Linked DNA regions of Homo sapiens. The protein of the gene in region 1 interacts with the protein of each later gene in a pairwise test. Each region holds a gene or a part of one and is shown on either strand. Other genes may lie near its edges. The genes, in order: C5AR2 and SLC26A11.

Region 1 (3,809 bases):
TGACACAAAACACAAAATGTTCAAGAAACAGTGGCTTCCAATAATAATAATTTTATTATTATTATTATTGTCAGGCACAGTGGCAATCATGCCTGTAATCCCAGCAGTTTGAGAGGCTGAGACAAGGCAGGTTGCTTAAGCCCCAGAATTCAAGACCAGCATGGGCAACATGGTGAAACCAGATGACCTCCAAAATAATAATAATAATAATAATAATAATAATAATTAATCAGGCATGATGGTGTGCACCTGTAGTCCTAGCTACTTGGGAGGGTGAGGTGGAGGGTTGCTTGAGCCCAGGAGATGGAGGCTGCAGTGAGCTGGGAAAGTGCCGCTGCAGTCCAGTCTGGGCTACAGAGCCAGACCCTGTCTCAAAAAATAGTAATAATATAGTAATAATATTATTGTGGCCCGACATGGTGGCTCACGCCTGTAATCCCAGCACTTTGGGAGGCTGAGGCAGGTGGATCACCTGAGGTCAGGAGTTCGACACCAGCCTGGCTAACATGGTGAAACCCCATCTCTACTAAAAATACAAAAATTAGCCAGGTGTGGTGGCATGTACCTGTAATCTCAGCTACTTGGGAGGCTGAGGCAGGAGAATTGCTTGAACCCAGGAGGCGGAGGTTGCAGTGAGCCGAGATCATGCCACCACACTCCAGCCTGGGCAACAGAGCAAAACTCTGTCTCAAAAAAAATAAATTATTGCTATGATAGATTATGTCGCTTCCTTGCTCAGCACCCTCCTATAGCACCTGTCTCATTTGGAATAAATGATGATGTCCTTGCGTTGCCCACGTGGCCCTACATGCCGTGGCCCCTGATAACTGTTTTTCATTTGTTTTGTTTTGTTTTGTTTTTTTCTTTTTTTGAGATGGAGTCTTGCTCTGTTGCCCAGGCTGGAGTGCACTGGCATGATCTCAGCTCACAGCAACCTCCGCCTCCCTGGTTCAAGTGATCCCTCCTGCCTCAGCCTCCTGAGTAGCTGGGATTACAGGCGTCCACCATCACTCCAGGTTATTTTTGTGTTTTTAGGAGAGATGGGGTTTCACCATGTTGGCCAGGCTGGTCTCAAACTCCTGACCTCAGGTGATCCACCCACCTTGGCCTCCCAAATTCCCGTGATTACTGGCATGAGCCACTGTGCCCGGCCCCTGATGACTCTGCTATTGCCTCTCACCCTCTCCCTCTGGCAGATTCCACTCCAGCCACACTGGGCTCCTTGCTGTTCTTGGACATGACCGTCATGTTCCCACCTCAGGGCCTTTGCACTGGCTGTTCTCGATGCCTGAAACACTCTTCCCCCAGATCTCGATGCATCTCTCCCACTGTTCCTTCAGATTTTTATGCAAATGTCACCTTCTCAAGAAGCCTTCCCTGACCATGCCTGTACAACTCCAACATAGCCAGCTTCCCTGTGTGATATTTTTCCCATAGTATTTATTATCTTCTAAAATACTGTGGATTTTGGATTTTGCTCATTTCTTTCTTTCTTTTCCTATTTTTTTTTATTTTTTGAGACAGAGTCTCTCTCTGTCATCCTGGCTGGAGTGCAGGGGTATGATCAAGCTCACTCAATCTCCTGGGCTCAAATGATTCTCCCACTTCAGCCTTTTCGGCAGCTAGGATCACAGGCACGCATGACCATGCCTGGCTATGTTTTAAAAAATTTTCGTAGAGATGGGGTCTCCCTATGTTGCCCAGGCTGGTCTAGAACTCCTGACCTCAAGTGATCTTCCCACCTTGGCCTCTCAAATCGTTGGGATTACAGGCCTGAACCACCGTGCCCAGCCCCAATATTCCAATGTACTAGGGTTCTGGCATTGTAATATTCTAGAATTCCAAGATGCCACTTCTAACAACACTAAGTTCTAGAATTCCAATTTTTTTTTTTTTTTTTTGAGATGGAGTCTCACTCTGTCTCCCAGGCTGGAGTGCAGTGGTGTGAGCTCAGCTCACTGCCACCTCCACCTTCTGGGTTCAAGAAATTCTCAGCCTCCCAAGTAGCTGGGATTACAGGTGCCCGCCACCACACCCAGCTAATTTTTGTATTTTTAGTAGAGACGGTGTTTCACCATGTTGGCCTGTCTTGAATTCCTGACCTCAAGTGATCCACCTGTCTTGGCCTCCCAAAGTGTTAAGATTACAGGTGTGAGCCACCACACCCGGCCTAGAATTCCAATATTCTAAAGCACTGGAGTCCTTATGACGCAATATTCCAGTTTGCAAGGTGCTGGTGGGCCGGGCTGATGGACACCCTAGATCTCCAGGGCCATGGAGTTTCCTCCTCTGAGTTTTCATCGTCTTTCTCTCCTGCCCAGACACCAGGAGCCTGAATGGGGAACGATTCTGTCAGCTACGAGTATGGGGATTACAGCGACCTCTCGGACCGCCCTGTGGACTGCCTGGATGGCGCCTGCCTGGCCATCGACCCGCTGCGCGTGGCCCCGCTCCCACTGTATGCCGCCATCTTCCTGGTGGGGGTGCCGGGCAATGCCATGGTGGCCTGGGTGGCTGGGAAGGTGGCCCGCCGGAGGGTGGGTGCCACCTGGTTGCTCCACCTGGCCGTGGCGGATTTGCTGTGCTGTTTGTCTCTGCCCATCCTGGCAGTGCCCATTGCCCGTGGAGGCCACTGGCCGTATGGTGCAGTGGGCTGTCGGGCGCTGCCCTCCATCATCCTGCTGACCATGTATGCCAGCGTCCTGCTCCTGGCAGCTCTCAGTGCCGACCTCTGCTTCCTGGCTCTCGGGCCTGCCTGGTGGTCTACGGTTCAGCGGGCGTGCGGGGTGCAGGTGGCCTGTGGGGCAGCCTGGACACTGGCCTTGCTGCTCACCGTGCCCTCCGCCATCTACCGCCGGCTGCACCAGGAGCACTTCCCAGCCCGGCTGCAGTGTGTGGTGGACTACGGCGGCTCCTCCAGCACCGAGAATGCGGTGACTGCCATCCGGTTTCTTTTTGGCTTCCTGGGGCCCCTGGTGGCCGTGGCCAGCTGCCACAGTGCCCTCCTGTGCTGGGCAGCCCGACGCTGCCGGCCGCTGGGCACAGCCATTGTGGTGGGGTTTTTTGTCTGCTGGGCACCCTACCACCTGCTGGGGCTGGTGCTCACTGTGGCGGCCCCGAACTCCGCACTCCTGGCCAGGGCCCTGCGGGCTGAACCCCTCATCGTGGGCCTTGCCCTCGCTCACAGCTGCCTCAATCCCATGCTCTTCCTGTATTTTGGGAGGGCTCAACTCCGCCGGTCACTGCCAGCTGCCTGTCACTGGGCCCTGAGGGAGTCCCAGGGCCAGGACGAAAGTGTGGACAGCAAGAAATCCACCAGCCATGACCTGGTCTCGGAGATGGAGGTGTAGGCTGGAGAGACATTGTGGGTGTGTATCTTCTTATCTCATTTCACAAGACTGGCTTCAGGCATAGCTGGATCCAGGAGCTCAATGATGTCTTCATTTTATTCCTTCCTTCATTCAACAGATATCCATCATGCACTTGCTATGTGCAAGGCCTTTTTAGGCACTAGAGATATAGCAGTGACCAAAACAGACACAAATCCTGCCCTCAGGGAGCTGATATTCTTCTAGTGGAGGAAGACAGACTATAAACAAAGATATATAGGGCCATTTGCGGTGGCTCACGCCTGTAATTCCAGGGCTTTGGGAGGCTGAGGCAGGTAGATCACTTGAGGTCAGGACTTCAAGACCAGCCTAGCCAATATGGTGAAACCCTGTCTCTACTAAAAATACAAAAATTAGCCGGGCATGGTGGCGCATGCCTGTAGTCCCAGCTACTTGGGAGGCTGAGGCAGAAGAATCGTT
Region 2 (3,809 bases), on another chromosome or scaffold:
CCTGACCTATGCGTGCGGTGGAATCCCCCACAGGGCTAAGCCCGTGCACTTTGTCCCCAGGGCACCTTCTCCTTGGCCAGGTCTCAAGGGCTCACGTGGTCCCTGCCCCACTCCTCAGGCCAGCTCTGTGCCCTGACAAGCCCCTGCTGCTGCCCTCCCTGAGGTTGGAGGCCAGGGACCGGCCGGCAGGTCTCACCTGCGCTCAGCTCAGATGGGGAGGGCATTTCTTTCTTTCGACTTGAAGCATGGCCTGGTCAGCAGCTGCTGTCCCCAAGTCCTCAGGGGCTGCTTGGGGTCCATGAGCACCTTTACTCATATGTGGGGGGCAGAAAGCTGTCCCGCTGGTCAGCAGGGCCATGTTGGGGCCTCGGGCAGCTGCCGGGCATTCCTCAGCTGTGCCCTTCTCCTAGGGCTGGACCTGCTGCCCCTGTGCGTGACCTTCCTGCTGTGCTTCTGGGAGGTGCAGTACGGCATCCTGGCCGGGGCCCTGGTGTCTCTGCTCATGCTCCTGCACTCTGCAGCCAGGCCTGAGACCAAGGTACCCCTCCGTGGCCTCTGAGTGGGGAGTGTGCTGGGGGCAGGATTCCTGGGCATGGTCTTATGTTTTGAGGGTCCGGGGTGATTGTGGTCGTGGGTGCTGCTGAAGGGGACCGCTCGCTGGCAGGTGGGCAGTCACCTTGCTATAAACCATGGTGTTCTCCCACTGTGTGGGGGCCATGGGGGTCTCCCCTTAGCACCCCTCTCCCGGTCCCCTGCAGCACACTAGGTTGGGTGGGGGCTTCCCGCTTGGGACAGGCCAAGCCTGGTGGAGGCCACCCGGTCAGACCCGCCTCCAGGACTCACTCCTCCCCACAGGTGTCAGAGGGGCCGGTTCTGGTCCTGCAGCCGGCCAGCGGCCTGTCCTTCCCTGCCATGGAGGCTCTGCGGGAGGAGATCCTAAGCCGGGCCCTGGAAGGTGCATGGGCGGGGGTCAAGGTGGTCTGAGGTCACTCCCCTGTCCTCTGCCCCCCACTCCCTGCTGTTCAGGACCCCAAGACCCTGTCCCCAACGCTCTCCAGTCCACAAGGATGCAGGCATCTCTGAGTGGGCTGGACCGTCCTCTGTGGGCCTCAGCCAGTGGCTGCTGCAGCAAGGGTGGTGGCCCCCCACATATCACTCCTTCCCTGCCCCTAAAGTCCGGTTCCTGTTTCTGGGGGGTTGATTTTAGGGGAGCTAAGGGCCTGTGAGTCCTAGGAGGGAAACAGCTGCTGCTGTCACCAAACAATTGTCTCTGGTCCTGCCACCCGAATCCCCCAACTGGGCGACTCAGCCGCCACGAGATGGAGCACTCTGGCCTCTCTGTCCCCTGCCCCTGGCCAGAGCCTCCTTTGGCCTCTGCAGAGCAGCTTTGGGCTGCTCTGGGTGGCGTGACCTGGCTCGGGCCTGTCTCCCCAGTGTCCCCGCCACGCTGCCTGGTCCTGGAGTGCACCCATGTCTGCAGCATCGACTACACTGTGGTGCTGGGACTCGGCGAGCTCCTCCAGGACTTCCAGAAGCAGGGCGTCGCCCTGGCCTTTGTGGGCCTGCAGGTGGGTGTGCACTGGGCTGCCTTAGGGGTTAGCAGCTGCCGGAAGGCCTTCCTGTGCCTGCCTCCCATGGCGAATGTGACATCTCTGGGCTGTGATGCTGGACGGCCCTTCGGCCGGTGCTGGCTCTGCTTCTGATTTAAACAGTTCTTGTTCCCATCTGGCCTTCCTCGTCCCTCCCTGTGGAAGGGGGAGCGGTGGCCCCCAGCCCTCCGAGGGGTCACGTTATGGCTTCTGGTCACTGCCACACTGTCCTTTGTGCTGGGGACACACAGTGAACGAGGGTCAGTCCCTGCTCTCAGGGGAATTGTATTTTAGGAAACAAAAAGAGACAGGTGAGGCTAGGCGTGGTGGCACACTCCTGGAATCCCAGCACTTTGGGAGGCCAAGGCGGGCAGATCACCTGAGGTCAGGAGTTCAAGACCAGCCTGGCCAACATGGTGAAACCCCGTCTCTACTAAAAATACAAAAAAAAACTAGTCAGGTGTGGTGGCGAGCGCCTGTAATTCCAGCTACATGGGAGGCTGGGAGAATCGCTTGAACCTGGGAGGTGGAGGTTGCAGTAAGCCGAGATCCCACTACTGTACTCCAGCCTGGGCGACAGAGTGGGACTCCATCTCAAAAACAAACAAACGAAAAAAAACAGGTGCTCATAGAATTTCATGAAAAACGTATTGTCAGGGCTTCCAGAGGCTGAAGACGGGTTTCTATGGAGGCCGTCCTGTTCAGAGCCACAGGTAAAGTGTAAGGGCTGGGTCCCAGGCCCTGCGTCTTAGGCCTCACCTAGGAGCCTTCTGAGCACTGCAGGGTCAACATCCCAGGGGTGTGGCCAGTGTTTGCAGAGAGGCAGGGGTCTCTGTTGCTGTGGTTAAATGTGCGCTCTCTGCCAAGTCCTAGATGGCAGAACGTGGGGGACTAGGGCGTGTCCCCAGGCGCCCAGAGGAGACATTCATGAACTAGCCATGGAACAGGAGGCCAAGTGACCCGTATACCCCAGGTGTGGACCACAGCCGACCCTTGTCAGAGTTTCCTTCATTCCCAACCTGGCCCACGAGGCTAGTGTTATCTTCATCCCCATGTCCAGAAGAGGTCACTGAGGCCCAGAGAAGCCAGGTAATCTGCCCACGGTCACACAGGATGGTGGGCCCGGCTTCAGATTTGGGCATGTGCCTTCAGAACTTCGCTCATAAGTGTTACGTCCTGTGTCATATTTGCAGAGCACATGTCTTCATGGTCTTTGGAGATGATTCACTTAAAAAAATACTCCTCTGACCCAGACATGGTGGCTCACACCTGTAATCCCAGCACTTTGAGAGGCCGAGGCGGGAGGTCAAGGGTTTGAGACCAGCCTGGCCAACATAGTGAAACTCCGTCTCTACTAAAAATACAAAAATTAGACGGGCATGGTGGCGCACGCCTGTAATCCCAGCTGCTCAGGGGGCTGAGGCAGGAGAATCGCTTGAACCCGGGAGGCAGAGGTTGCAGTGAGCCGAGATCGCGCCATTGCACTCCAGCCTGGGTAACAAGAGTGAAACTCCATCTCAAAAACAAACAAACAAACAAAAAGTCCTCTGGGCCAGGCGCTGTGGCTCACACCTGTAATCCCAGCACTTTGGGAGGCCGAGGTAGGAGGATCATTTGAGGCCAGGAGTTTGAGACCAGCCTGGGCAACATGACGAAACCCCATCAAAAAAATAGGAAAAAATAGCTGGACGTGGTGGCGTGCACCTGTAGCTACTCAGGAGGCTGAGGTGGGAGGATCACTTGAGTCTGGGAGGTTGAGGCTGCAGTGAGCCATGATCGTGCCACTGCACTCCAGCCTGAGCAATGAGCAAGACCCTGTCTCAAAAAACAAAAAATTAAAAAAAAAAAAATCTTCCTCTGACAGCATTCCCCTGGGGCTGCGTTTCTTCTCACCATTCACTGGTATGGAGGTGAAGCCATACCTCTCCGGGAGACTCTGAGATGGCAGGTCTACCAGGCTGCCGACCCGTGTGCTACAGAGGAACATCCCTGCCCTGGCTAAAGTCTGTCTGTCTCTCAGGTCCCCGTTCTCCGTGTCCTGCTGTCCGCTGACCTGAAGGGGTTCCAGTACTTCTCTACCCTGGAAGAAGCAGGTGGGCACAGTCAGACATCCTGTGGCTTTGGTGATTTTGTAAAAATCATAAATGCTTATTGTAAAAAATATGGGAAACCAGCTGGGCACAGTGGCTCATGCCTGTAATCCCAGCACTTTGGGAGGCC

The links.
Region 2: the proteins of C5AR2 (region 1) and SLC26A11 interact in a two-hybrid assay, tested with the Homo sapiens proteins (one large-scale study listed by BioGRID and IntAct).

Annotation. Positions count from the first base shown.
Region 1 is NC_000019.10:47,338,464-47,342,272, forward strand, and holds part of C5AR2 (C5a anaphylatoxin chemotactic receptor 2), read left to right. Parts: intron 1-2,023; exon of another isoform or gene 2,024-2,149; intron 2,150-2,321; 5' UTR 2,322-2,336; coding exon 2,337-3,350; 3' UTR 3,351-3,809.
Region 2 is NC_000017.11:80,247,720-80,251,528, forward strand, and holds part of SLC26A11 (sodium-independent sulfate anion transporter), read left to right. Parts: intron 1-410; coding exon 411-538; intron 539-855; coding exon 856-955; intron 956-1,434; coding exon 1,435-1,568; intron 1,569-3,609; coding exon 3,610-3,682; intron 3,683-3,809. UniProt on the Homo sapiens protein: Sodium-independent anion exchanger mediating bicarbonate, chloride, sulfate and oxalate transport.